Linked DNA regions of Homo sapiens. The protein of the gene in region 1 purifies or fractionates together with the protein of each later gene. This does not show direct contact. Each region holds a gene or a part of one and is shown in the gene's direction. Other genes may lie near its edges.

Region 1 (3,746 bases):
TTATGCTGATTTCCCAGACTAGTGTAAATATACTTAGTGAAAGTCTCTTTTATTTCTTTAGGCAAACAATTTTCCCTCTCTGAGCCTCTAGTGTTGATGATATTTGACTGAATGATGTCACTTCCTCTAATTATATTTTCTCTGCATGTTCTAGTCTCGGGGAACAAGGCTATTTCTAAAATCTCTTTATATTTTTTAAATATTTTGTTTTCCATCTTTATTTTCTTTTGCTTCCTTATAATAAAATGTTTTTGTTTCTTATTTTCTGTAACATGAAAAATACTTTATGACTGTATGTCTGTGACTATGCAATTGTTTATGTTTAAGAAATTGCCATTTGCATAAGGGCATTTATTTTTTTCCTTTATGCTACTTGAGTTTTGTGATAAATTTTAAAATTAGATAGTTAAAGACACAAGGGTACAAATTTAAAAAGCAACATAGCTATTATAATTTTGCTCAAAAAACATATTTATTGCCAACTGAAAACACGAGTCAAACTAAAAACTTATTATGAGATAGCTATGGTAATGACCTTGGCCCAGTGAGAGAGCCAACTTTCAAATATCTTAGGTATTATGTTTTCAGGTATATATTTTCTTTTGGGATTTTATAAATCCAAATGTCTCTTTTAAAACCAAAATAAGCTGTTACATATTGACATGACATATTTGCAAATCACAAAAAAGTTTATGAAAAGCATAATTCATTAAGAGTAGTTATTTTTGTTGTTGCTGGAAGGGTGAAGATGGAGGGAATCTGATAAAGACATCTTATAAATTCAACAGACACAAAAGAATTTGATCTCCCATAAGCAACTGTGAAATTACAATAACAGATCCTGGGAAGTTCTACAATTCTAATTCAGGTTTACAAGTTTTCTTCTCATCTATTCAGTAGATATTTTGTCGAGTACCTGTGCTAGGTTCAGCTGTGCCCCCAAAACATGTACATTCCTAACTTTTATTACCTGTGAATGTGATCTCATTTGCAAATAGGGTCTTTGTACATGTAACTGAGTTAAGATGAGGTCATACTGGATTAGGGCAGACCCTAATCCAATGACCGATGTCCTTATATGAAGAGGGAAATTAGACACAGAGACACACAGAGGAAAGACAGCTATGTGAAGATGGTATCAGAGAATAGAGTGATACTGCCACAAGTCAAAGGATGTCAAGAATTGCTGGCAACCACCAAATGCTAGAAGAGTCCAGAAAGGATTTTCTCTTAGAGCCTTTGAAGGAAGTATGGCCCTGTTCTTCTTGATTTTGGACTTGTATCCTCCAGAACTGTGAGATAATAAACTCCTGTTGTTTTAGGCCACTCAGTTTATGGTAATTTGTTATGGTGGCCTCAAGAAACTAGTACAGTACCTAACTATCCACCTAGCATTAGGGCAGTATACATAATAGATGTAGCCACTCACCTCTTCGTGCTTACATTGTACAGGGCGGTTGGAGTAGGTAGACAATAAACACATATATTATAATATTTCATTATATTTGGTGATAAGTGCTAAGGAGAAACTGAATCCATTGTGATAGAGATATGAAGTGTGTGGGTGATGTTGTTTGCGTGTGTCTCCACCCAAATCTCATCTTGAATTGTAGTTCTCGTAATCCCACATGTTATGGGATGGACCCAGTGGAAGGTAATTGAATCATGGGGGCAGCTACCCCCATGCTGCTGTTTTCGTGATAGTGAGTTCTCCTGAGATCTGATGGTTTTATAAGGGGCTTTTGCTTGGCTCTTCCCCTTCCTGCCATCATGTGAAGAAGGACATGTTTGCTTCCCCTTCCACCACGACTGTAAGTTTCCTGGGGCCTCCCCAGTCATGGCAAACTGTGAGTCAATTAAACCTTTTTCCTTTATAAATTACCCAGTCTCAGGCAGATCTTTACTGGGTAAATTTATAAAATGAGAATGGACTAAGACAGTAGGGGACAGCTGTTATTTTATATGTGGTAGTCAGGGAAGGTATCTCTGGGAAGGGAATACCTGAGCAAAGACCTGAAGGATGTCATGGAGCAAACCACAGAGATTTTCAGAAGAGCATTCCAGGTAGAGAGAACAGCAAGTGCAATCGCCCTGAGAAGTCTGTGTATTTCAGGGTTTTCCAAAAATGCCAAAGAGGCCAATGTAGCCAGAACAGGCAAAAATGATGGGAAAAGAGATGTGTTGAGGAGGTGGATGCTCACAGATTATGTAAAGCTTTGTCGGTGAATGACCAAATATCCCGGTTTGCCCAGGAAAGGCTCAGTATAGAATGTTGTCTCATTGTAATTCTAAAAAATTGTTTGGAATCTTCCATTGGTAGCTTGGGCCAGACATTAGCAATAGAGGTGGTGAGAAATGATTGGATGTTGTATAAATTTTGAACGTAGAGTCTTTCCTTAGGAAAGTTACTTTGCTTCACTATTTGAGCTTCCTTTAGTAAAAAGTAAACATAATGTGTCTTCTAAAGACATCGTGAGATTTCATGTGTTGATGATGTATTAGCAATTTTGTAAACATATTTTAAATGGCACACATTAATGTATTAACATGGGAGGCAGCATTGATATAAAAACAGGTTCTTGCCAATTTGTTCTCTCTCTGATCAAGTAAGCTGCAAACAGTATATTTTGAACCTATTTTTTTGGTATTCATTGTAGTATAAATGGTTATAATGATTTTCAAGTGTGTTCTTCCTATCTAAACAATATGCATTAATTTGAAACAATGAAATTGCCATTTTTCTAAGTCAGAAATGTTCAAACATCTGCCATTTCTTATAGTTCAACATAATACAGTAAGAAAGGATTAACCAGGCAATAAAGAAAGAGGTTCAGGAGATTTGGGAGATATTCCCAGGGGATATCCCCAGAGGCTGAATGGTCCTGGAGAAATCATAAGCATCCTTGTGCTTGTTTTCTTATTTTCACTGTGAGGCTAATGAAATAAAATAAAATGGCCAATTAAAATTTGATAGTGTTTTGATAGTGTTGTTGTTGTTTGAGGTGGAGTGTCGCTCTGTCACCCAGGCTTAACTACAGTGAGACAATCTCAGCTCACTGCAACCTCCGCCTCCCAGGTTCAAGTGATTCTCATGCTTCAGCCTCCCGAGTAGCTGGGATTACAGGTGTGCACCACCACACCTGGCTAATTTTTGTATTTTTAGTAGCGATGGAGTTTTATCATGTTGGCCAGGCTGGTCTTGAACTCCTGGCCTCTGGCGATCCTCCCACTTCGTCCTCCCAAAGTGCTGAGATTACAGGCGTAAGCCACCACGCCCAGCCAAAGTTCGGCAGAGTGTTTAGTGATGCCCAAACACAAACACAATATGGTTTCAGATGAGTATTCCTTATTTTTCCAATCCACGTTAGACTTGGGGAAATAGCCCTTGTCCCCTTGATGATGGGCCCTTTAATGTAAGTAATATTGCAGCCTTGCAGAGGTACATTCTACTTGAATGGCTAGCTCATTTTTATATAATGCCCCAGGCCACGCAGGCTGCTTGGCATCTTTGTGGAACTACGCTTACTGTCCCATCAAGCCTGTTTAGCAATTATTGTGTGTCATTATTAAAATATTATTCTCTTATTGTGAAGAAAAGATACTAAAGCATGCTGTAGGTCAGTCATTTTCTAGTGACAGGGATTAGAGGACTAGAATCCATTCAATTTTTAAAACTTTACCTACGAATAGTTAGAAAATATATGCTTGAAATAATCTCATTCTAGTTTATTGTTATTGTTTATTTT
Region 2 (3,746 bases), on another chromosome or scaffold:
ATCCCTTTCCCCAAATAGCCACAGCTTTACTCCCTTTTCTCCTTTAGCTTTTGGCTGAAATGTCACTTCTTAGACTTTTCCTCAGCACCCTATTTAAAGCAATCCCCACCAAGACAGGAGGATTGCTTGACGCTGGGAGTTTGGGGCCAGCCTGGGCAACATAGTGAGACTTCCATCTCTACAAGAACACTTAACATTTGCCGGGCATGGTGGCGTGCACCTGTAGTCCCAGCTACTCAGGAAGCTGAGGTTGGTGGATTGCTTCAGCCCAGGAGTTCAAGGATGCAGTGAGCTATGATTGCACTACTGCACTCCAGCCCGAGTGAGAGAGCAAGACCCCGTCTCTAAAAAATAAAAAAAGCGATCCCCCAAACAATACTCTAACACACATACACACACTCCCTCCTCTGCTTCACACATCTACATGGCATTTTTCATCATTGGCCATTCTATGTATTTTATCTAATTCTACAGGCTCAGTGCCTGTTCCTCCATCCCTCCCCATTAGACTGTCAGCTCCATGAGGACAAGCATTGGTATATCTGTGTTCGTTTCTGCAACCCCAGCACAGACCCTAACACATAAAGGTATTCGATAATAAAATTACTAAAGCTGGGCGCGGTGGCTCACGCCTATAATCCCAGCACTTTTGGAGGCCGAGATGGGCGGATCACTTGAGGTCAGGAGTTCGAGACCCGCCTGGTCAATACGGTGAAATAAACCCTATCTCTACTAAAAATACAAAAATTTGCTGGGCGTGATGGTGATGCATGCCTGTGATCCCAGCTACTCGGGAGGCTGAGGCATGAGGATCGCTTGAACCTGGGAGGCGGAGGTTGCAGTGAGCCGAGATCGTGCCACTGCACTCCAGCCTGGGCGACAGAGCGAGACTCTTGTCTCAAAAAAAAAAAAAAAAAAATTCTTGGATTTTTGTCTATTATATTTAATACTCATTCAGCGTTTAAATGATATATATACTCATGACCCACCAATTCCACTTCTGGAATCCTGCACTGGGAAACCGCTCACCTGAGGGCAAACCAAAGCACCTACACAGCATGTTCTCCACAGAACTATTTCTAATGGCCAAAAAAATGGCAAGAACCTAAATACAATCGGGGAGTGCAGTGCCATCCTATCGCGTGCTGAGCACCAAGAGAAAGAACGAAGACCTATATCATCACCATGAAGCGTCCCGAGAGATACAGCGAGTGACAACGACAAATCAGCCAAATACTCGCGCAGCATGATTTTTTAAAAAAGCGATTAGATTACAAAAACTATACGTTTTCCAGTTGCATAGACACGCACGTAAAAGCACAGAAACGCGTCTGCAAAGTCACCAGACTATTAACAGCAGTTACCTCTCGGAAAGGAAAGGAAGGACTAAGTCTGGAGATAATTTAATTCGCTACAAGAACGTTCTGGTATATTCTCTCGTACTTCCACATTAATTTTAGAAGGCTGACAAACCAATGCTTTAGACTCCGGGCCGTAACTCTCAGGGTCACTCATCCATCCTCCACTGTTGCTGCTCCCCGCGGCCACCCCCGCGCCGGCCAACAGCGCTCCTCACTCACCAGACACGGGTGAAGGATCCCTCTTGGCCTGGAGGCGACTGGCCTGAGGCAAGAACGGGTTGTTCACCCTACGGGAAGCGGCAAGGTCAGCGGGGAACGGGCCCGGGCCGTCCCCCGCTCGAGCCGCCAGCCCGCGAGGCTGCTCACCCAAACGCGTTGGGCTCCTCCACCACCTTCATCTTCGCTGCACCTGCCGGCGCGGGCCCTACGGGGAGCGAGACCGTGAGCGGGGAGGCCGGGGTGCAGAGCGCGCGCGGGGCCTGGGGACGCGGACGGCCGGGCCACTCACCGCCGGCCGAGAGCCCGAGGAGCAACAGGAGCCGCGCCAGCCCCGCCGCCATCGCGCCGCAGCGGCCGCCGCGCGGTCACGTGAAGTGACGGTCACGTGACCACGGGGACCGGAAGTGGCGTCCGGCGCAAGCGCTGGCAGCCGCACAGCCCATTGGGAGGCCGAGGGGCGCGGCCGTGGGGTGGGGAGTCCCCGGCACCCCAGGTCCGCGCCATGGGCCGCAGGAGGGCAGCGCGCGGGCCGGGGGCGGAAGGCGGCCGCCCTCGGCACCTCCCGACGCGCTCCCTGGAGGCCTTCGCCGAGGAGGTCGGCGCCGCGCTGCAGGGTGAGCGAGGCGTGATGGGGAGAGCGGGTCAGGGTTTGAGGGCCTGCCCGGGGGTCCCACGCTGAGGCCGAGTGCCCTTCTCTCTCTCGTGCAGCTTCCGTGGAGCCAGGGGCGGCTGACGGCGAGGGCGGCCCGGGCCCGGCGGCGCTGCCCTGCACGCTGGCCATGTGGGAGTTGGGCCACTGCGACCCCCGGCGCTGCACGGGCCGCAAGCTGGCCCGCCTGGGGCTGGTGCGCTGCCTGCGCCTGGGCCACAGATTCGGCGGTCTGGTGCTGAGCCCCGTGGGCAAGCAGTACGCGTCCCCCGCAGACAGGTAGGCGCGGGAGGCCTGCCCGAGGTCGTCTTCATTTCCAGCGCGTGGTTCCCTTCAGGGATGGTTTAGTGGCACTTGTATGTCGCACCCACATCCACACCCACGTGGGCAGGGAACGTCTGTCTAGTTTGCCTCCGTTGCGTAGCGCAGAGCCTGGGATAAAGGAGGTTTTGGGGTAATAAACGTTTGTTGAGTGAATAAACACATGCTCCAGGTGCCCCAAGCAGCTGCCTCAAAAGCTTGCTCGTGAAGTCCGTTTGAGGGTGTTTGGGGATGGCGGAATGATGTCCCTGAATCCCTTAGCTAGGCCATTCTCCGGGGCATGCTCCACCTTGGGTAGTGCTGGCTCCTGAACTTATCCCATGCTGTCCCTGGCAGACAGCTGGTGGCGCAGTCTGGGGTCGCCGTCATCGACTGCTCCTGGGCCAGGCTGGACGAGACACCGTTTGGGAAGATGCGAGGGAGCCACTTGCGCCTGTTGCCCTACCTGGTGGCCGCCAACCCCGTGAACTATGGCCGGCCCTACAGACTTTCCTGCGTGGAAGCGTTTGCTGCCACCTTCTGCATCGTAGGTGAGTCCAGGGGCCCCACAGCAGTGTGACCCGGCGGCCTGCTGTTCCTGCTATGCTCCCAGCATCATGTTTCCTGCCGACAGACCCCAGGAGGAGCATAAGGGACGGACAGGGGAACAGTTCAGACAGACCACGGTTCCAGCCCCAACTGTCACTTCAGGTTTTCGGCCTGTGGAGTTGCAGTAGAGGCAGAATGGGATCGCTGTTCTATCAGGGCCGGTGTGTGGGGTGCCATTCATTATCAGGGCACCACTGCCCAGAGAATCCTCCTTATCCTCCACGTCCTCCTTACTGAATTGCTGATCTAAAGAGGCCCTGATGAGGCGTGGGGCAGTCTTGGTGGGAATGTTTGTTTCGCAGCAAAGGAGGGGGACTTGGTCGGTTGCAGAGGTGTGGACTGTAGCAAGGGAGGTGCAGGCTGGGGGCAGCACGGGTTCTCAGGACTGTGAGCTGATGTTTGCTGGGGACCCTGCGGTTACTTGGGAGAGCGCCGCCATCCGGCAGCAGGGTGATCAGGAGGCACTTGAGGGGACCGTCGACTTCTTTGGGTTTCCTGTTTCTCACACCGTCAGGCTTTCCAGACCTTGCTGTCATTTTGCTGCGGAAGTTTAAATGGGGCAAGGGCTTCTTGGACCTGAACCGCCAGCTCCTGGACAAGTACGCGGC

Evidence for each region. The genes of interacting proteins can lie anywhere in the genome.
Region 2: the proteins of FGL1 (region 1) and TSR3 purify together in Homo sapiens (affinity purification with mass spectrometry; 4 studies listed by BioGRID and IntAct, with this or other methods). This does not show direct contact.

The regions. Positions count from the first base shown.
Region 1 is NC_000008.11:17,888,803-17,892,548, reverse strand, and holds part of FGL1 (fibrinogen-like protein 1 precursor), read left to right. Parts: intron 1-741; exon of another isoform or gene 742-868; intron 869-3,746. UniProt on the Homo sapiens protein: Immune suppressive molecule that inhibits antigen-specific T-cell activation by acting as a major ligand of LAG3. Responsible for LAG3 T-cell inhibitory function. Binds LAG3 independently from MHC class II (MHC-II).
Region 2 is NC_000016.10:1,350,141-1,353,886, reverse strand, and holds the start of TSR3 (18S rRNA aminocarboxypropyltransferase), read left to right. Parts: upstream 1-2,008; 5' UTR 2,009-2,082; coding exon 2,083-2,194; intron 2,195-2,288; coding exon 2,289-2,508; intron 2,509-2,886; coding exon 2,887-3,080; intron 3,081-3,652; coding exon 3,653-3,746. Other genes in the region: GNPTG (N-acetylglucosamine-1-phosphotransferase subunit gamma precursor), read right to left, coding at 1,581-1,648, 1,728-1,785, 1,870-1,921. UniProt on the Homo sapiens protein: Aminocarboxypropyltransferase that catalyzes the aminocarboxypropyl transfer on pseudouridine at position 1248 (Psi1248) in 18S rRNA.